3 separate regions of the Homo sapiens genome follow, and regions 2 and 3 are each linked to region 1. Evidence: fine-mapped expression QTL. A gene starts in region 1. Each other region holds a variant in brackets. All regions are shown on one strand. Distances are between the middles of the regions. Region 1 holds the start of BPI (bactericidal permeability increasing protein). Region 2 overlaps LOC149684 (a long non-coding RNA gene). Region 3 holds the start of LBP (lipopolysaccharide binding protein).

Region 1 (7,466 bases):
TGCCATGATGAGCACTGTTTCCTCATCTTTAAATGAGGAACCCCAATTTCAGAAAGGTGGAGGAACTTGGCCAGGCTCACAGAATAGGGTAGCATGGCTGGGACTATGAACCCAGGACTGCCTGGCTCTAAACCCAATTCACTTTCTTCTGGAAAAAGTCGTCAGCCTAAGGACGGAAGAGCAGGAAAATAGACAGATCCAGCCCTTGAACTGACCAACTCTTGATCCACCCCATCTGTGAATTTCTACTGAGAAGAATATATTTTCCCTATGATTTAAGCTGCATCAAATTGAAATAGCAGGAGAAGAGTTTTGGGGGATGACAGGATTCTTCTATATCCTGATTGTGGTCCTGGTTACAACACATAGCTATACATGTATCAAAATTCCTAGAACTAAAAGGAACTCTAGGAAGCAAATATGGCAGAATGTTAAGGTTTTATAAACCTATGTGGTCTATTCTTTTCTTAGGTTTGAAATATTTTATAATAATTTTAGGGAAAAGAAAAAAACAAAAAGCAGGAGGAGGAGGAAGAGGAAAAGGATATTTGGGGAAAGTCTGTTTAGATGGGATGGCTGGAGCTGCTGCGGCCATCTTGCAACCATGAAAGAAGCCAGTGTAAGAGCAAATCTGAGACACGGGGATGGGAGAGCAGAGAGATGGAAAGATGATCCTGCAGATGTCGGTCAGTTGCTGAATCAATCAGAATCTCAAACCTGTCCTCCTCCCTCTGGACTTCCTCTCTGCCATAATAAATTTGTTTATCGTTGAAGCAATGTGAGTTGATGGTTTCTGATACTTGGGTTGAAGACACTGTTACTGATACAGGATACGGGGTCAGATCTGAAGCAGTGGGGCAGCCCCATGGCCAGCAGCAGTGCTGACAAGGAGACTGTGGAAAGTCACTGATGTGGCTCATCTAGATGTGGCTGGGCATGAGACATCGGGGAAGCCAGTGGGGTTGCTTGTTCAGAAACTTGCCAGCTGGGTTTTTTTTTTTTTTTGGTGGGAGGTTGTGGGGGGACAGAGTCTTGTTCTACCATCCAGGCTTGAGTGCAATGGTGTGATCTTGACTCACTGCAACTTCTGCCTCATGGGTTCAAGAGAGTCTCATGCCTTGGCCTCCTGAGTAGCTGGGATTACAGGTGAACACCACCATGCCTGGCTAATTTTTGTATTTTTAGTAGAGACAGGGTTTCACCATGTTGGCCTGCCTGGTCTCGAACTCCTGGCCTCAAGTGATCCACCTGCCTTGGCTTCCCAAAGTGCTGGGATTACAGGTGTGAGCCACCACCCCCGGCCGTCAGCTGGTTTTAAGATTCTAATTTTATAGCAATGTAGGTCATTGTCATGTGATTTCATCTTAATGTTCCTTTCCTAGCTGACACCCTCACGGATACCACATCTACCTGGGCCTTGGGGAACTCAGGAACTTCGAGCAACTAAGAGCTGGAAGTGTTCAAAAATGTGCAAGATAATTTTTCAAAAATCTAATTTTTGTGACAAGTCATCAATCTATGTGTTCTGGCTGCTACTTAGAGCAATCTTCCTGGTACAGATGCAGACATCTGAGTCTGGGGGCTCAAATCACTTGGAAAAAGGGAGAGCTGGGGTGAGGGCCTACAGTCATGAGTCCTCCTGGCACCTGCCTCAGGTAAGGGAAAATCTTCTCTGCGTGAAAGGAGGAATGACCATGACAGTGATGTGATCGCTGCATCTCAGTTTCCTTGTTTCCAAAATGGTGAAGAGGTCAGGCACGGTGTGGCTCGGCCTTAATCCCAACACTTTGAGAGGCTGAGGCAGGAGGATTGCTTGAGCTCAGGAGTTCAAGACCAGCCTGGACAACATAGTAAGACCTCATCTCAATAATAATAATAATAATAATAATAATAATAATAATAAAACAAAATGGGGAAGAATCATCCCTCTCTCAGGGTTGTTTTTTGGCTTGGAGATGATGCATATGAAGCATCTGGCACACAGTGGATGCTTCACACACGGCCACTGCTTTCATTCTGAAGCAAGCCAGAAGAATTCTAGTTGCTGCAGATGGAAGCAGGAGGGGAGACTCTTTTAGAACCAAACGAAGAGAGGAAGAAAAAAACTTTTAAGAAAAAAAGAAGAAAACTTCAGAAGGTCTCACGTCCTCCGAGCTCAGCGGACTTCATTAGACTTTCATAAAGTCCAAAGTCGGGGAGACAGGGCACTAGGGGGCTGATGAGGACCCAGCGGGAGAGAAGCTGGCTGCCCCTTCTGCAGCCCCGCCCCTCCTCTCATCACCATGGAGACGGAGCAGGCTGCCCAGTGGGGTTCCTGCCCACCCGAGGCCTGAGGCTGCTGCAGAGGGAGGGGCAGGGGCTGAGCAGACAGGGACCTGTCTGGAAAGCTGGGTTGGCGGTGGGGAGTGTCTACATCCCCCCAACTCCCAAGGCGCTGAGGGATTCGGGCTGGTGTGGGATGCATCTGGAGGGCTGTGTTTTGATCCTCGCTCTGCTAGCAGCTTGCTGAGTGACCGTGGGAAGAACGCTTCCCCTGGTGAAGCCTCAGGTTCTACATCTGCCAAAGGAAGGAGTAAAAATGTACAAAAACAGAAGCTTGGATAAGAAAGCTGTGGGATGAGGAAGCAATGAAATATTTAATGCTGGAGAAGAACATTTGCTACCTATTGTTTCTCGAAAAAAGGGAACTTTACCAAACTGACCAGGTGATCCCATATTGGTTAACAAACAAACATGGACTCTCTACCTATGCTTACCAACAAAAGAGGGAGAAAAGAAATACTCTAAAATACACTTTGGCTTGTCTCCGGAAGAGGGAGTTATATGTAATTTGTATTCTCTTGTTTCTTTCTCAAATTTTGGCCAATAAACATGGGTTACTTTTAAAATCAGGATAACATTAATAGCTAGCATTTGGATATTTATTTTGCACGGGCAGTATGCTAAATGCTTTACGTGGTTTTAAGCTCATTTTATCTTCTCCACAATCCAGAGAGGGAGCAGTACTATGTATTTCTCTTCTGCAGAAGAGAAAACCGAGGTTCAGAGAGGTTAAAGGGCTTGCCTGAGGTCGGACCACTAGAGAATGACAGGGCTAAGATTTAAAACCATAGCCAAGATACTAGACTCTAAAATGTGAGCATTGAATCATTACCACTACTGCCTCTCAGGACAAGAAAACACGAAAGCATCTGTTTTCTTAAATGTTTTACTATCAAAAATACAAAAGAAATCAAAAGTAGAAAGAAAAATATGAATCCTTATGTCTGTGCCACCCACCTTCAAGGGAGTCTGTAGATGGGGGCATTTGGGTGGGGACACAGAGCGGGGAATGGGGTGCCTAGGGAGGGGAACCAATCTACACACACACATACACACACGCACGCCCGCGCACACACACGCATGCATACATGGACATGCGAGCCTCCCAGGCTGCACTTCTCCCTGCCTGTGGGGCCCTAACCACAATGGAAAACCACAGCGGCCCTCCCTCTTTCCCACCCTCACCAGGTTCCTTCCTCCTTTCCACATTCTACTGACTTGCATTTCCCCAGCCGACTCTTTTATAGCTCCCTGGTTCAACCTCAAGGCCTTGAGGTTTTGGCAGCTCTGGAGGATGAGAGAGAACATGGCCAGGGGCCCTTGCAACGCGCCGAGATGGGCGTCCCTGATGGTGCTGGTCGCCATAGGCACCGCCGTGACAGCGGCCGTCAACCCTGGCGTCGTGGTCAGGATCTCCCAGAAGGGCCTGGACTACGGTAACTGGATGCCTCCCTTCCCTCCTCTCCACCCCTGAGGAGCACTTACTTAGCATCTACTGTGTGCACCCCTTTAGATCCAGCACCTGGCACACTCATAGCACCTCAGGGCAGGTCCCCTTGCCCCCATTTTATATATGAAGAAACTGAGGCAAAGCGAGTTGCCTAAGATTGCAGGGCTGGGATGGCAGAGCTGGGATTGGAGCACTGGTCTAGAGGACTCCAAGTCCAGTGCTCAGACCCCTGAGGGTCCTCATGGTCCCCTCCTTCCCTCTATGTAACCTCCACCTTTGACTTATAAGCCCTTCTCTTCTTTCCAAAGCCAGTTCTCAGCCTTGCCATTTGCCTCTCGTTGCTGAGGAGGCTGAGCAGGGTCAGAGGGAGAGTGTGGGAGGACCTCCCCACCCCGTGCTCTCCCCACTGCAGGGGCTGGCGGCCATACTGTGCACAGTGCTCCACTGGGTGACACAAAGAGGGTCCCCCCAGACCACTCACCCCAGCCCAGGCAGAGGAGAGAAAGACCTGCTCTAACCTGTGCCAGGCATTGAGCTAGGAACTTTACACACACAGTCTCTTTTACCCTCACTTCAGCCTTGTGTAAGACAAACTGCTGCTATCCACATTTACACGTGAGAAGTGGGCAGCCTGGATTTGAGCTCTGGTCTTGCCTGATGCCCCAGCACGGGGTTGCTCGATGCTGCCTCCCGATGGCAGAGAGATGACCTGCAAAACAGTGGGTGACACCCAGCCCCAGGGAAATCAGACCAAGGGGAAGGCAGAGCCTCACCAGTTGGGGTGCGTTGGGAAAACAGACAGGACTCAGGGGACCTGGTATCCCACCCCTGAATTCCCACCCCAGCCCAGCAGGACATCACTGAATCCTAGAGCTGCAGACAGAAGGCCACAGAAGACAGAAGAGCTAGGGGGAAGGAGTATGGCCCTGAAGCCTGTCGACACAGAGGCTCAGTCAGGGTCTTTAAGTTCAGTGGTCTTCATGCTCCGTCATAGCAGCCTGAGTTTCCCCTTCTACCCAGGCCCCTTGTGCCAATCGGAGTGAGTTTTCTGAAATGCAGCAAATCCCTACACATCCTCCCCTGGCTCACATTCTCCATGGCTCCCTACTGCCTTCAGAAGCTATCCTGACCCTTTGGCATGGCATTTGAGACCCTTCGAGGCCTGGCCCCTGTCAACTTACAGATCCTGGCCACTGCACATTTTTTTTTCCCTCCACACAGTGACCAGTTATGTGTCATTTACTTTTGAACCCCCAGAAAGCCTTCTCTAGGGCATGGGCTCTGGGACCAGAAGGCCTGGGTTCAAATTCTGCCCCTTGTCCGCTGTGTGGCCCCTAGCAAGTCACCTCAGCTTTCTGAGCCTCAGCTTCCTTATCTGTGAAATGGGGGTAGTGACAGGACCTACTTCCTAGGATTGTACAAATTCATACATATACGGAGCCTAGAACAGTGCTTGGCACAGAGTAAAGCTCGATACATTTCATTGATATTATTATTTCCTAACTGGCTCCGAGAAAACCCAAAGTCTGGGCTCCCTCATCTTACTACTTACTCCTTTTCAGGTAATGTGTCTGCCTTTTAATTGGTTCTTTGATGCTGTTAGCCACATTATAACTGGTGGTAGAATTCCTGCCATTAGGACATTATTTATTCATCTAATAAATCTTTTTTTGTTTTGTTTTGAGACCGAGTCTCGCTCTGTGGCCCAGGCTGGAGTGCAATGGTGCCATCTCAGCTCACTGCAACCTCTGCCTCCGGGGTTCAAGTGATTCTCCTGCCTCAACCTCCCAAGTAGCTGGGATTACAGGCGTGCACCATCACACCCAGCTAATTTTTTGTATTTTTAGTAGAGACGGGGTTTCACCATGTTGGCCAGGCTGAACTCTTGAACTCTTGACCTAAAGTGATCCACTTGCCTTGGCTTTCCAAAGTGCTGGGATTACAGGCGTGAGCCACCGCACCCAGCCTCATCTAACAAATCTTAAGTGCCTTCAAAGTGTCAGGCACAATGGGAATGTAAGGGACACACGAGTAAATAAAACAGATTGCTGCTGACTTCAGGGGGCTTACATGTAATAGGGGAGAGACATTCGTCAGAGTCACGTGAATAAATGCATAATTACAAATGGTAACAGGGGCTCCGAAAGAGCAGTCCACAGCATCATGAGAATAACACAGGGCGTTGCTCTGATCTACTAAGCCAGGGAGGGTTCCCAGAGGAAGTGATGAATGAGCTGACTAGAAGCTGACCGGGTGAATATGGGAGGGAAGAATTTCTTAGGGAGCAAGAATAGCATGTGCAAAGGCCCTGGGGAGACAGTCCAAAACCCAGAGAGGTGGGAGATCTGTGGGGGTGTAGCATAGAGCAAATAACAAATTAAGTATCCAACAAAAACTAGCAGGAGGCATAACTGGGTGTTTCAGGGGTGATATTTTAGACCAGGGGTCAGCAAACTACAGCCCTCCGTTTTTGTATGGCTTATAAGACAAAAATGGCCTTAATGTCTTTAAATGATGGGAAAAAAATCAAAAGGGCCGGTCATGGTGGCTCATGCCTGTAACTCCAGCACTTTGGGAGGCTGAGGTGAGAGGATCACTTGAGCCCAGGAGTTCGAAACCAGCTGGGCAACATGGTGAAACCCCAGATCTCTGCAAAAATGTTAAAAAAAAATTTTTAAAAAGTTAGCCTGGTGTGGTGGCGAACACCTGTGATCCCAGCTGCTAGGGAGGCTGAGGTGGGAGAATGACCTAAGTGCAGCGGGTCGAGGTTGCAGTGAGCCGTGATCATGCCTCTGCACTCCAGCCTGGGCGACACAGCGAGACCCTGTCTCAAAACAACAACAAAAGAAGAAAAATACTATCTCACAACATGTGAAAATTATATGAAATTCTCATTTCAATGCCAACAAATAAAGTGTTATTGGAATACAGGCACATATAAGAACATGATATTGTCTATGGCTGTTTTGTGCAGTAATGGCAGAGCTGAGTATTTGTGACAGAGGCAATATGGTTTCCTATAAAGGGTCAGTTTACTATTTGGCCTTTTCTAGGAAACCTTAATTGATCCCTGTTTTTGACCCTTCCAGTGCCACTGTCCATGCTACGAACAGGGGCCCAGGGTCCAGAGCCTGCCCTGCCCCTCTGTCCCCTGCTCCAGGCTGTGCCTCTCACTGTCACCCCTGCCTTCTCCCTTCAGCCAGCCAGCAGGGGACGGCCGCTCTGCAGAAGGAGCTGAAGAGGATCAAGATTCCTGACTACTCAGACAGCTTTAAGATCAAGCATCTTGGGAAGGGGCATTATAGCTTCTACAGGTGAGGCCTATCAGAGCTCAATCCTCGATTTGCAGGACTTGTAGTGTTCTGGGGACACCAAGAGCTAGAATGCAGAGCCACAAACTCCTCAACTCACAGAGTTTCATATCCCAAAGCCTGCATTTACATCATCCCAAGGGGAGGCAACCTCCCAGCTGAGCGTGGAGGAAGCCACAAAAACCACGACTCCCAGGAAGTGTGTCATGAACCCCCAAACTCTGCGCCATATGTCAATTAGAATGTGCAAGTTTTCAAGGTCAGAAAATCTTTTCTAAAATGGCTTAAGGCAGAATGCATTGGCTCACATGGCCGGAAAGTCTCTGGAAGAGTCTGGCTTCAGGTTCAGCTTGAGGCAGGCTTACATGTCACTGGGCCCTGTT
Region 2 (7,466 bases), 24 kb before region 1:
GCCTTCCAGCCTGGGCCACAGAGTGACACCTTGTTGCTAAAAATTAAAACAAAAAATAAAAATAACTAAACTGCAAACACAGGCCGGGTGCGGTGGCTCACACCTGTAATCCCAGCACTTTGGGAGGCCAAGGCTGGTGGATTACCTGAGGTCAGGAGTTCAAGACCAGCCTGGCCAACATGGGGAAACTCCATCTCTACTAAAAATACAAAAATTAGCCAGGTGTGGTGGCACAGGCCTGTAATCCCAGCTGCTTGGGAGGCTGAGGCAGGAGAGTCGCTTGAACCCAGGAGGCGAAGGTTGCAGTGAGCCGAGATTGTACCACTGCACTCCAGCCTGGGCGACAAGAGCAAAACTCCATGTCAAAAAAAAAAAAAATGCAAACACACATATTAGCCTAGGCCTACACTGGATCATGATCATCAGTACCACTACCTATCACCTCCACATCTTGTCCTACCGGAAGGTCTAGGCAATGGGAATTTCTCAGCTCCATTATAATCTTACGGGACCACCATCGTTGTTGACCGAAGTGTTATTATGCAGCACATGGCTGTAAGTGTGAGAGATTAGGCAAATTTCCTGTGCAGAAGAATTCCAAATAGTTTATGTAGATACTTCACCCCCAAGAAGACACAGCATAAATAAATAACTTCCACTCCTAAAGTGTGGACTGCACATAGTGACTTCCTTCCAAAAGTTACAGTATGGGAAAGAGGAGAAAGAGTAACTTTACCGTGGAGAAATCTGACAAATATGACCTCGGCCAGGTGATCAAGGCCAATATCAACAGTAATAAATTGTGTTAATGCTACATACTCTTGATATGCTGTGTAAGGATGGGGCGCTTCAGATACAGGCTGCCTTAGACATCTCTATTCTGCCCCCACCTGCCTTGCAAAGATGTCCTCAGGGAGAGAGTAACTGTCTTCTCCAGGGCCACACAGCATGCTGGGAGGGGCAAATACCTGACTGGCCTCTTCACAGCATCAACAGAGTTACCACACCTATTTCACAGAGAAGGTAAGGGGGACCCTGAGGGCTTGTACAATTTGCCCACATCCCCTTACAGTGGTCCAGCTGCAAAAAAAAAAAAAAATAGTAGAGGGGCTCCCCAAACCACACACACCCCAAATAGCCACAGCTTAGCTCAGCTTCCTCCCATCCCTGGATTCTCAGCACTGAGATGTCTCCCTCCCCGACATTCTAGCTTCCTCTCCCTCTTTTCCCACAGGGACGGCCCCTTTCCCTCTATGGCCCCACTTCAGAGCTCTGGGGCTACCCAAGGACACCCCAGGCCTCTTCCTTACGGTATGAACAAAACTGGGCAGATGCTATGGCGGTGGCGCCACGGAGGGGGCCGGGGTCATGTTGCGGCCTCACGCAACAGGCGGCTGGGAGCTTAAGTCATGGTGAAAGGGCTAAATTGTCCTGTGCAGCTGTGCTTGTTTTTCTTCCCCGTTTCAGTCCGCAGCCCTGATAGGGGAGGGGGTAAGCTGGAGGCGGTCACTTTTTTTCCTGCCTGTGTTCCCCCATCCCAGGGAGTCCTCCAAGACTGTCCTCCAGGAGCCTACACGTGCTGCTTTCACCTGGTTTCTTATAAAGCAGAGTCTCGGGTCTGCGGAGTGGGAATGGGTCTTCATGGATCTAGCTGTTGAAACATCAGAATGATCCATGGGGGTGCAATCCAGGCAGACATCTGCCTCCCCCAATAGGATTAGAACCCCAGGGGCTAGGAGCAGAATTGCAGTGTTAATAAACACAGATGGTTAGTTAGACCCAGCTTGACTATACAGATTGAGAAAAACTGGGGCCCAGAGAGGGACAGAGATTGCTCAGGGTCACTGAATAAGACCTATGGCTAAACCTAAGCTAACTCCATTCATTCATTCATTCATTCATTCATTCATTCATAAAAACATTCACTCAGCATTGACTACTTCCGGCCCTTTGCCAAGGGTTTAGCAGGGCGGGAGTTGGCTCACAAGATGCTCACAATAAGCAAGCATGTATACAACAAACATCCTTCAAAAGTGCAGTGACAAGTACTGCAATTGAGATGTCTGAGATACCACAGGAGCCCAGGAAGGGTACTTGACCAGGCAGAGGGGAAGTGGTCAGGGAGGGATGCCTAGGGGAGCTGATAACACAAGCAGAATCCTAAAGGAGCCATAGAATATATCTATGCAAATGGCCAGGCACTGTGGCTCATGCCTATAATCTCAGTACTTTGGGAGGCTGAGGCTGAAGGTTGTTTGGGAGGCCAGAAGTTTGAAACCAGCCTGAGGAAGGAGTTGGTTGAACTTGTTTGTTTGAGACCAGAGAAGCAAGACGTCATCTCTACAGAAAATACAAAATTAGCTGGGCATGGTGGTGTGCACCTAGCTACTTGGAAGGCTGAGGTGGGAGGATGGCTTGAGTCTAGGTGGTTGAGGCTTCAGTGAGCTATGATTGTGCCACTGCACTTCAGCCTGGGCAACAGAGTGAGACTCCATCTCTGGAAAATATGTGTACAAATAATTTTTTTAATTAAATGAAAATTTGAAAAACAAAGGAGGAAGGACCCTCCAGGCAGGAGGATCAGCATGAGCAGAGGTTTGGAGGTAAGAGCGGTGTGGGTGGGCAGCAAAAAGCAGTTCAGTGTTGCAGGAGCCCAGATTTGTGTGGCAGGAAGAGGCAAGAAGTTTATTGCACCTGCTGAGTGCTTACTATATGCAGGGCCCTATTCAGGCACTGGGTTTAGGCACCATGAGCAAATGTACACAAAGCCCCTGCCCTCATGGCTCTTCCATTCTAGGGGAAAGACAAGAAAAAAACCAAACCAATAAGCAAACCAAGGCATAATATTCATGAGGAGGTAAGTGCTGAGGGGGGAAATAATGCAGAGTAAGGGGCTCCTATTTCATGACAGGTAGCCAGAAAAGGCGTCTTGATGAACACATCCTTAGCGGAGACCTGAAGGAGGCAAGGTAGTGAGTGGCGAAGCATTTGGGTAAAGCATGTTCAAGGAGGAGGGAGCAGTGAGCACAAAGGTCCTGAGGCCTGAGCAAGGTGAGGCTGGAGAAGGTTGGCAGGAGCCAGTTCAAAAAAGGACCTTACATGACATGCTAAGAAGTCACTTTCCTCTTCTTCTAGTAAAGTATAAGAAGCCAGTGTTGGGGCTTTGTGTTAGTCCATTCTCACACTGCTATAAAAAAATCCCCAGCTGGGTGCAGTGACTCATGTCTGTAATCCTAGCACTTCGGGAGGCCAAGGCAGGCAGATCACTTGAGGTCAGAAGTTCAAGACAAGCCTGGCCAACGTGGCAAAACCCCATCTCTACTAAAAATACAAAAATTAGCCAGGCATCATGTCACAGGCCTGTAATCCCAGCTACTTGAGAGGCTGAGGCAGAAGAATCGCTTGAACCTGGAAGGAGGTTACAGTGAGCTGAGATCGTGCCACTGCACTCCAGCCTGGTGATAGAGCAAGACTCCATCTCAAAAAAAAAAAAAAGAAGAAGAAGAAGAAGTAGAAATACCTGAGACTGGTAATTTATACAAGAAAGAGGTTTATTAACTCATAGTTTTACATTGCTGGAGAGGACTCAGGAAATTTACAATCATGGTGGAAGGCAAAGGAGAAGCAGGCACCTTCTTTACAGGGTGACAGGATGAAGTGAGTGCCAAGCGAAGCGGGAAGAGCCCCCTTATAAAACCATCAGGCACACACTCACTATCACAAGAACAGCATGGGGGAAACTGCCTGCATGATCCAATTACCTCCACCTGGTCCTGCTCTTGAAATATGGGTATTATGGGGATTATAATTCAAGATGAAATTTTGGGTAGGGACACAGCCAAACCATATCATTCTACCCCTGGCCCCTTCCAAATTTTATATCCTCACATTTCAAAGCACAATCGTGTCTTCCCAACAGTCCCCCAAAGTCTTAATTCATTCCAGCATTAACCCAAAAGTCCAAGTCCAAAGTCTCATCTGAGACAAGGCAAGGCCCTTCTGCCTATGAGCCTGTAAAATCAAAACCAAGTTAGTTACTTCCTAGATACAATGGGGGTCCAGGCATTGGGCAAATACACCCATTCCAAATGGGAGAAATCGGCCAAAAAGAGGGGCTACAGGCCCCATACAAGTCTGAAATCCAATAGGGTAGTCATTAAACCTTAAAGTTTACTATGTAAACTTTAAGTAAACCAAAATGATCTCCTTTGACTCCATGTCTCACATCTAGGTCATACTGATGCAAGGGGTGGGCTTCCAAAGCCTTGGGCAGCTCTGCCCCTGTGGCTTCAGAAGGTACAGCCCCCTTCTCAGCTGCTTTAGTTGACTGTCATTGAGTGCCTGTGGCTTTTCCATGTGCATGGTGCAAGCTGTCAGTGGATCTACCATTCTAGGATCTGGAGGACAGTGGCCCTCTTCTCACAGCTCCACTAGGTGGTGCCCTAGTGGGAACTCTATGTAGGGGCTCCAACCCCACATTTCCCTTCCACACTGCCCTAGCAGAGGCTCTCCATGAGGGTTC[C/G]AACCCTGCAGCAGACTTCTGCCTGGACATCCAGGCATTTCCATACTTCCTCTGAAATCTAGGCAGAGGCTCCCAAACCTCAATTCTTGACTTCTGTGTACCCACAGGCTCAACACTACATGGAAGCCACCAAAGCTTGGGGCTTTCAGCCTCTGAAGCAATGGCGTGAGTGGTAACTTGGCCCATTTTAGCCACGACTGGAACTGAAGCAGCTGGGAAGCAGGGACGCACCATGCCTCAAGGCTTCACAGAGCAGCGGGGGCCTGGGCCCAGCCCACAAAACCGTTTTCCCCCCTAGGCCTTGGGACCTGTGATGAGAGTGGCTGCCATGAAGGTCTCTGACATGCCCTGGAGACATTTTCCCCATTGTCTTGGTGATTAACATTTGGCTCCAGGTTACTTATGCAAATTTCTGCCGTAGGCTTAAATTTCTCCCCAGAAAATGGATTTTTCTTTTTCTATTGCATCCTCAGTCTGCAAATTTTCCAAACTTTTATGCTCTGCATTCTTTTGAATGCTTTGCCACTTAGAAATTTCTTCTGTCAGATACTCTAAATCATCTCTTTGAAGTTCAAAGTTCCACAGGTCTCTAGGGCAGGGGCAAAATGCCACCAGTCTCTTTGCTAAAGCATAGCAAGAGTGACCTTTACTCCATTTCCCAAAAAGTTCCTCATCTCCATCTGAGACCACCTCAGCCTGGACTTCATTGTCCATATCACTATCAGCATTTTGGTCAAAGCCACTCAACAAGTCTCTAGATAGTTCCAAACTTTCCCATATCTTCCTGTCTTCTTCTAAGCCCTCCAAACTGTTCCAACCTCTGCCTGTTACCCAGTTCAAAAGTCAATTCCACATTTTTTAGTATCTTTATAGCAGTGCCCCACTCTTGGTACCAATTTACCGTATTAGTCTGTTCTCACACTGCTGTGAAGAAATATCCAAGACTGGGTAATTTATAAAGGAATGAGATTTAAATTGGCTCACAGTTCCACATTGCTGGGTAGGCCTCAGGAAACTTACAGTCATGGTGGAGGGCAAAAGAGAAGCAGGCACTTTCTTCACAGGGTGGCAAGATGGAGTGAGTGCCAAGCAAAGGGGGAAGAGCCCCTTATAAAACCATCAGATCTCGTGAGACTCACTCACTGTCATGAGAACAGCATGGGGGAACCCTCCACCTGGTCCCCCCTTTGACACTTGGGGATTATGAGGATTATAATTCAAGATGAGATTTTGGGGGGGACACGGCCAAACCATATCAGACTTAGAAAACAATACCCCAAAATGAAGGCCTCAGAAGTGAGTTTCTTCTCTGACCCCCTCCTGCCCTCCTAGCTCTCAGTCCTATTCCTGAAGGCTAGCCATAGAAACTAGCATGTGCTATAGAAACCAGAACCTCTTCTCCCCAAAGCTAGTCATAAAACCTAAAAATACTACTCTAATTTTCCCTCCAACTTTCTGTATAAAAACTGGCCATAAAGAAATGATCTTTCCTTTGACTGTAGGTCATAAGACCCCCCATTCCAGAAAAGGTCCTGCCCCATCCCCAGAAGGAAGGAGCACTGCTCAGAGAGGCCAAGAATAATCTAGATAGGCGGGTCATGCTGGGTTCCCACTCATTCTATCAGCATTCGATCAGACCTTTTTGTCCAGTCGTATTTCTACATGGCTGTTTATACTTCATGGAACCTAAGCATAAAAATGAACAATTTCCTCTGTATCTTTGGGTCTTCATTCTAAAGACTCCCGTGAATACACATTAAATACATTTGTGTACCTTTTCTCCAGTTAATGTGCCTTTTGCAAGGTGATTTTTCAGAGAACCTTTAGGGGGCTCTCCCTTGGCCCCATGCCAGCAAAAGGTTTAAACAGAGAGGTGGGGGCATGCCCCAGGTTAGATTTTCAAGTTCCTCTGACTTCCATGTGGAGAATGGACCAGGTGGCAGCAGGAGGGCCAGTGAGGCATCTGTTACATGGACCGGGCTGGAAGTGATGGTGGCCTGGATGGTGGACGGAGGGCATGGGGGGCTGAGGAGGAGAAATGGGGTGCTGAACTAACTAGCAAAGGGGCAAACCCATAGGGCTAGGCTGGTTGCTGTTGCTGGGTTGGTCAGGGTGATGGCAGGTCATGGGAGGAAGGCAGGCCCACCTCTTAGACAGAGGCAAGCAGGGATGAGCAAGGCTGGGGAAAAGACACATTTAGTTTTGAACGCCTGAGCCTGAGGCTCCTATGGGACATCCCTTCTCAGGGATGATGATCTGGGGCTCCAGAGAGATCTGAGCTGGAGAGGAGGTTGAGGAGTTGTCATCATGATGGGGGGTTGGGAGTACTGCCTGACCCACTTGTCATTTGCCTTGGCTCATGACTATTGAACTGGGAGATAAGGGGGCCCAGGACAGAACCCCAGAACCCAGGAAACCCCCAGGGTTAAAAGATGGAATAGAAGCTCACAAGGAAGGGAACCAAGGAGTTGTCTAGGCCCCAAGGAGAATGAGGGGAGTGCCAAAGGATGCTTCAGTGGGAAAGAGACAGGCAATGTTAAAGTTGTCCCCAGACCTACTAAATCAAGGACGAAAATATGTCCCTGGAATGTTGGCAGGCAGTAAACAGAATGACACTGCTCTCAACAGACTGATGTGGATCTATCTGCAAGGTTGGCATGTGTCTGTAGTCCCAGCTACTCAGGAGGCTGAGGTGGGAGGATCGCTTGAGCCCAGGGGTTTGAGGTTACAGTAAGCTATGATCGCACCACTGCACTCTAGCCTGAGTGACAGAATGTGACCCTATCTCTAAAAGTAAAAATTTAAAAATGCCAGGCACGGTGGCTCATACCTGTAATCCCAACACTCTGGGAGGCCAAGGCAGGCAAATCATTTGAGCCCAGGCGTTCAAGACCAGTCTGGGCAACATGACGAAACCCCGTCTCTACAAAACATACAAAAATTT
Region 3 (7,466 bases), 39 kb after region 1:
GAGACAGAGTCTCGCTCTGTCACCCAGGCTGGAATGCAGTGGTGTGATCTTGGCTCACTGCAACCTCTGCCTCCCGGATTCAAACCGTTCTCCTGCCTCAGCCTCCCAAGTATCTGGGATTACAGTCTCACACCAGTACGCGCGGCTAATATTTTGTGTACATATATTTTTAAATATAGACAGGGTTTCTCCATGTTGGCCAGAGTGGTCTCCAACTCCTGACCTCAAGTGATCCACCCACCTTGGCCTTCCAAAGTGCTGGGATTACAAGTGTGAGCCACTGAATCCAGTCTTGGCCGTTACTTTTAATGCCAAAAAAAATAATTACTTTTCCATCAACCTAAATCTTTCTTGGACCTGAAGATTGGTGCATGAAACACATTGTGCCTGCGAACTTCTCTCTAATGGCTGAGGAAAGGCAGTTGCTTGGGGGTTAGGGTTTGAGCAGCATTCCCCAACACACTCCAAAGGTTCTGCCAAGTTGGCTACAGAACCACTATTTGAGCAGCTTCTCCCTTCAGGCTAAGCATTGTCTGCTGCAGATGACTGCAAATGTGTGTTTGGGGTTTCTTTGGGTGACGTTGAAAATGTTCTAAAATTAAATTCTGGATTGTACACTTTAAATGGGTGAATTTTATGTATATGAAATATATGTCAATAAAGTGGCAAAAGACAATTGAAGAAGAAAAAAAAGAATTGTTCACTCCAAACTGCCTAAAAGCTCACCATCAGAGCAGCTTCCCTTCTGGGATAAGCACAGCCTTCCTGGGGTTCCTTTTGGAAATGCTGACTTATTAAATAAATATGAGGGAGGAGTACCCTCTGCAAGGAGAGAAGGTGGGGAGGGGCACAGGAAGACTAAGCACTGTCTTCATCATTTTGCCATGTCCCGCTAGTGGCCATGAGCAGCCCTGTCCCTGGGTCTATCTCTTCAGGCTTATGATCCTATTTAATCCTCATGACAACCGCTAAAGGTAGCCAAGGTTGCCCTTGTTTTTCAGATGAGGAGTCTCTAGAAAAGTCGTGTGGCCTGCTAAGCTAACTGTTCAGAGCCTGGGCTCTGGAGTCACCTGGCGGTGGTTTCAAACATAAATCCGGCCCCCTCAAGAGCTGTGTGACTTTGCAAATGTTCCTTAACCTCTCTGGCCCTCTATTTCCTCCTTTGAAAAGGAGAGTTAAAATCTTGCCCTCTCGGCATGAGGTTATTGGGAAGAATCAGAGGTATGATTGATAGGGTCATGGCACAGTGGTTAAGAGTATGAACCATGATCCCAGATATCTTGGGTTTAAATCCCACGTCTGCTATTTACCAGCTGTGTGACTTTGGGCAGTATACTTAATTCTCAGGTTTTCTATTTCTCATCTATAAAGGGAACATCATTATAGTACCTACCTCATAAAGTTGTTATGAGAATCAAATACATGTCAAATCCGTGGTACAGGGGTTGACAACAGTAATCCAAGTTTGCTCTAATTTGAATAAACGCAGTTCTTCTTACTATACTGTAAAGACTATATCTGACCAGGTGCAGTGGCTCACGACCTGTAATCCCAGCACTTTGGAAGTCTGAGGCAGGTGGATCACTTGAGCCCAGGAGTTCGAGACCAGCCTGGGCAACATGGCGAAACCCAGTCTCCACTAAAAACACAAAAATTAGCCGGGCGTGGTGGCACACACCTGTAGTCCCAGCTACTCAGGAGGCTGACGCACGAGTATCATTTGAACCCAGAAGGCGGAGGTTGCAGTGTGCTGAGATCACACCACTGCACTCCATCCAGCCTGGGTGATGGAGTGAGACTCTGTCTCAAAAAAAAAAAAACAAAAAAAATACTATATCTGGCTACAGTAGTATTCCCAATGCCTGCCACATAGTTGGTGATCAGTAAGTATTTATTTTAAAAATGATCTGGGATTTCAACCCACATCTGCATAACTCAAAACATTTATGCCAGTGATTCTCAATGTATGATCCAGGGCTGTCTGCCTGAATGGGCCTGACCCCAAGAATCAGAGCCCCTGGCTGGCCAGAACTCTGGATTTATCCTCTCCAGTTCAGCAATAGGCTCACAGTGTAACCTGGGCCAGTTCTCCCTCTCTAGGTCTCAGTTTCCCCATCTGTAAAAGTAAGGGCTCTCTGGGGTGAGGAGCTGTTTATCCACATGACCAGCCCTGCTCCATGGGGGCTCCTGGTATCTCAAGACACGCAACCTTCAAGCCACAAAGGATCGTCACTGACGTTACTACTTTTATTTTGTAAGCCCGCATGTCTCAGGGCTCATGTGTGTGTGTCTGTGCGTGTGCGTACACAGGCACACATTCAGATCTGCAGGTGATGTGGCTTGGGGAGAGGCTGCCATAAATATTAAACTCCCAACTCCAAAGTACCCTGCAGAGATTCAGAACTGCAGGAATTCATAACATCATTCTCTTTCAAGAGTCAGTGTTCTCAGGAGTGTGGGCACCGTCATAGAAAACTATCGAAAAGGAGAGTGAAGCATTAGAGAACTGCTGAGCTTGGAGGGAACTCGGAGCTCATTTAGTCCCTTGTTCCCGAAGCTCCAAGCACAATCCGTGGTCAGCAGCATCACCCTCACCAGGGAGCTTGTTAAAATGCAGAGGCTCAGCCCCAAGAGGAACATGATGGATCAAGATTTGCATCTAAACAAGATCCCTGGGGGACTTGACTGCACGTCTTTGTTTCTGAAAAGCTGTCCTAGTCCCCAGCCCTCATCTGCATTTGGGGGAAACATGAGGAACAGAGAGGGGTGGAGTTTGTTCCAGGTCCCCCAGCCCATTAGGAGCAGGGCCTTGACAAAAAACCTGTAAGACTTTGGAAAAGGATTCAAAGCTCTCTGCGAGAGGCAGGCGTTTGCACAAAAGATGAATAAGTGCAGAAGAAATGCTCAGTGTTGCTAATTGTGTCCAACAGGGTTCAGGCAAGAAAAGAGAATCCAACTGCATTGGTTCTTGGGATTTGAATAAAGTGGCTATTTCTAGAGTTGGGGGACAAGCTTGAGGAAACCAACCAGGGACTGTTTTTCCTAAGGCTCAAGCAGCAAAGAAAAGCATCTGGGTATCCCAGCCCAAGGAGATAATAGGAGCCAAGGACAAGGCCTTATCAGGAGGGACACAGCCAACTGCCACACTTGTGATCTAGAGAAGACAGCAGGGAAAAGTGCCCTGACATCTGACCTCCTGCCATGCCACCCTCTGGCTGAACCCAAGTAGAGATGAGGAAACTGAGTCACAAAGTGCCCAAAGTCACCCCGTGGGGGAGTCAGGATTCAAATCCAGGCCATCTGGCCCCAGAGTCCATAAAGATAAACATAAGGTTTGTTTATTCCTTTGGCAATTATCTACTATTTGCTGCTCAGTATTCTAGACACTATGGATTCCAAATTCTGGGTTTTTCAAAATCTTTTCAGTAACACTTTTGTAGT[G/C]AGAATATTATCGGTGGCGAGTCCGCAACACTCCCAGCCCTTGTCTTCTCAGAGGAAAGAATTCAATTGAGAGACGCAGGCAAGTTTTAAAGCAGAGGCAAAGGTTTATTGAAAGAAGCAAAGTACAACTGAGAGATCAAGTGCCCCGCTCAACCTTTGGCTCGGGGCTTTTATACACTGGCTTGGTTCTGGGGTTTCTTCTCCTCCTTGATTCCTCCCTTCGGTGGGCTGCTGCGCCCTCCCTGCATGCGCAATGGCCTGCCAGCACTTGGGAGGGGCCGCATGCGCAGTGTGTTTACTAAGGTTGTGCGCATGCTCACTTGGGGTGATTTTCCCTTACTGGTCCGTCGCCGCAAGAAAAAGGTCATATACAAGTCAGACTCCAACATTTGCCCTTCTGCTCGACCTTACCAGGGAATTGTGGTTTGCTGGCTCCAGATGATGTCAACTATCTGTTAGGGAACTCCTCTCCCTCTTGGCGCCATTCGTGGCCACTTATCATGTCAGAGGGACAGTTTTATGATCGCCTGTCCATCATTTGATGCACTGCCATTTCTGGGGGCCCTCTCCTGCACAAGAACACAATAAACAGCCTTGTTAAAAGAGTCCCTATTTCACTGCAATAAGACTGAGTGGTGGCCAGAGTGGTAGCAGCTGTTGCTTTTGTGGAATTGGATGGACAGCCTGGTAGGAGAAAGGCCCAGGGGTTCTGACCAGCAGTGGGGTCGTGCTGCTCCCTGAGGCCTCTGCTGGGTCCTGGGCCATCAGCAGGGACCTTAGCCAGCAGTGGGCACCTGCAGGGGTGGAGGCCAGGCCTGGGCCATGTGGCAGCTCTAAGGTCCAAAGATTGCTGCTGTGGGAAATTCCCACCCCTGCAAATGACTCCCAGCCAGGGACATCCTTAAACTGCTGCCAGAGGAAGAGTGACATCTATGTCCCCATAAGATCCTTATGCTCCAGAATGTCCTCCCCCACTCTCCTCCCCTCCTGGGCAGGCTGAGGTCCAGGAAGCAAAGGCCCCTAGGCACACTGGGGATGCACCTGTGAGCCCTTTCCTGCTCCAAAGCCTCCCAAAGGCTGGCTCCTTACCCTGAGGCCTCTGCTCAGCTTGTTGCCTCCCAAGAGAACCCTGCCCTGACCAGAGTTTTGGAATGGCATCCTGCAGACCTGGACTTAAATTCCTGCTGGGTGACTGCAGCCTACATCACTTCACCCTGCCAAACCTCAGTTTCTTCATCTCAAGACAAGACTAAAATATCCACCTGGGGTTGCTGATGCAAGGATGAGAGGAGACGTGCAGCTTAACCAGCACAGCGCCTGCACATAGTAGGTGCTCAATAAATATCAGTTTCTTTCCAATTTCTGCTGGGTGCTGCAAGGATCTCAGGAAATGGAAGACTCAGCCGTGCCTGCAAGGAGCCATCAGACTGGTGGTGTGGGGACTGAGGGGAGGGACGGATGAGGATCCCAACAAACCTCAGCCCCAGTGACAGGAGCAACACGGTACAGAGGAGCAGAGAGGCCTGGACTGTGGGGTTCCCTGTGCTTAACGTGGGACATTCTGATCTTAACCTCAGTGCCTGCCAGTGCTGTTTGTGACCTATTGGGAGTCACCCTGTTAATCCCACCACATTCAGTTGGTTGAGGCCATCATGAAAACCTGCCCAATTTCAAGGGAAGGGGGCAGAAACATTACCTTTTGATGGAAGGAATATCAAAGAATTCGTGGGCATATTTTTAAAGGACCACAATTATCAAAAAGCAGAGTGGTTAATGCTGTGGTGGGGAAAGCGCAAAGGGTTCTGGGACCTCAGAGGGGACCCTTTCTAGAATCCAGAGAAGCATGGGAGTGGTCAGGGAAGGCTTCCTGGGGGTGAGGGCAAAGCAGAACTCACAAATGTAAGCAGGGCTGGGGCAAAACTCTAAAAATTAAACACAGTCTGTACTATAAATTTTGTTTTCCAGAATGAAATTTTACTATCTTTACTTACTGCGAATATATGCCCGGGACCATACCCCCAAGAAAATAAAAATTTTAGAGGCTGGGCATGGTGGCCCAAGTCTATAATCCCAGTATTTTGGAAGGCCAAGCGGGAGGCTTACTTGAGCTCAGGAGTTCGACACCAGCCTGGGCAACATAGCAAGACCTCGTCCCTACTAAAATACAAAAAATTAGCTGGACATGGTGGCTCACACCTGTAGTCCCAGCTACTTAGGGGGCTGTGGTGGGAGGATCACTTGAGCCCAGGAAGTTGAGGTTGCAGCGAGCGATGTTCATGCCACTGGACTCCTGCTTGAGCAACAGAGTAGACTTTGTCTCAAAAAATGAAAAAAGAAAAAAAAATTGTACGTATCAACAAGCAAAAACTTTTTTAACACTTATAATTCTACCCCCACAACCAGAGACAATGCCTCATGACTCCTTGCTAAATATTTTCCAGATTGTTGAACATAGAAGCCTATTTTGAACCCCCCAAAATAGAACCTTACTCTATGGTGCCATCGGAAACGGATGCCTCATGACATCCCTTTCCTTGCCAAGAAATACCTTTATTTCTGCAGCCTCACTTTAAGGGGCATGTCATAATTCATTTAACCAATGCCCTTCTGGTGGATACATGAGGTTGGGTCTCACTTCTCCTGTCCTGTTTCCCACAGCATAGCAGTGGTATCTTGGAGCAGTGATTTACTGGCACACTGACTCAATTATGTATTTAAGGGCAAGTCCCTGAAATTGAATTCCTGGGTCACAGGGCATGCAACTGTTTAAACATTTGCCAATTGCCTTCCAGAAAATTTCACCACCAGCAAGGTTTGAGAAACACTGTTTTCCCATTGGGGGAAACATTTATTTTTTAAATAAACGAGCCAATATATTTTAAAAAAGAGAGTTTGGTTGGTGCCAGATGTAGCTTCACTCTCAACCCTGCCCTCTGCTGGGGGTGAGATCTCAAGGGAGCTATGTGGCTTTTTTGAACCTCAGTTTCCTCATCTGCTAAACCAGGCCTTCCTAGCCGAGCTCTTAAGAGACTGGCTGAGATGAGGCAAGATGAACAGTGATGAATATGGGGTCTTTCTGTGGGGAGGGTGGACAGGGATGATCATAGGAGTCAGGCTTCCTCATCCACTGATCTGGGCAGTGAAAACTGGCTTCTAAGTATGACCTTATGACTTCAGTGATGTCGCAAGCAGGTTCCAGTCCCTGTGCCTCCCCTTCCCGCTCCCAGGAACCCATCCAGCCTCAGGAACTGCCCCCAGCCATCGAGCCTTGGCTACTTAAGGGACCTGGGCCCAATCCACAGCTGGGACAGTCCTGGCCCACTGCACTGGGAATCTAGGATGGGGGCCTTGGCCAGAGCCCTGCCGTCCATACTGCTGGCATTGCTGCTTACGTCCACCCCAGAGGCTCTGGGTGCCAACCCCGGCTTGGTCGCCAGGATCACCGACAAGGGACTGCAGTATGGTAAGAAGCCACATCTGCTGGCTGGACTTGGCAAACCCACGCTCCAGGCTGCTCTGGGTACAGTGGGGACAGGGAGTGGGGACACAGACCGGACCCTCTCCCTGGGGCAGTGCCACCTTCTGGGTCAGGTGGCTCTGGCTCCTATTCTGGCCTTACTGCCCACCAGCTGAGTGCCCTGGGCATGTTATTTGTGGTAGTGAGGTCCTCCACCAGCCAACAGAACACAGCTTTGCGTGCAAGTAGTTGATTTGGGAAATGATTCCAGGAAACACTGTAGGGAATCGGTACTGAGATGAGGAAGGGAGGGCAGCCAGGAGAGAGTGTGCAATTAAACCAGCCACCACCTCTGATGATGGGAACCACTCAGCTGGGAAAATTCTGCGTAAAGTTTGGAAACACATGCCTCTGAACTGGAAGTCAGAATTGTGGTCACCTCTAGAGGCAGGCAGAGACCCTGAAGGGCATGAGGGAGGTCTGCCGGGGTGCTGGAAGTTGCCATATCTTGATCCAGGTGGTGATCACATTCCTGTATAAACATTAAAAATTATTTAGCAATACCTTT

The links. PIP is the estimated chance that this variant, and not a neighbour inherited with it, causes the effect. A credible set is the group of variants that fine-mapping cannot tell apart.
Region 2: its variant is the best candidate, but not a certain one, in a credible set for the expression of BPI in prostate (GTEx, PIP 0.64).
Region 3: its variant is the best candidate, but not a certain one, in a credible set for the expression of BPI in whole blood (TOPMed, PIP 0.62).

Annotation. Positions count from the first base shown.
Region 1 is chr20:38,300,596-38,308,061 of GRCh38, forward strand. It overlaps BPI (bactericidal permeability increasing protein), which reads left to right and starts at 3,561. Exons shown (of 15, transcript NM_001725.3): 1 at 3,561-3,758; 2 at 6,972-7,086. The coding sequence starts at 3,629.
Region 2 is chr20:38,276,951-38,284,416 of GRCh38, forward strand. All of the region lies in intron 1 of LOC149684 (a long non-coding RNA gene), which reads left to right. Among named protein-coding and RNA genes, the nearest start is that of KIAA1755, 20 kb to the left of the region's middle. RefSeq lists a silencer at 3,208-3,317. The variant C/G (reference allele first, on the strand shown) is at 4,523.
Region 3 is chr20:38,339,737-38,347,202 of GRCh38, forward strand. It overlaps LBP (lipopolysaccharide binding protein), which reads left to right and starts at 6,746. Exons shown (of 15, transcript NM_004139.5): 1 at 6,746-6,904. The coding sequence starts at 6,781. RefSeq lists enhancers at 2,465-3,241, 4,022-4,799. The variant G/C (reference allele first, on the strand shown) is at 3,442.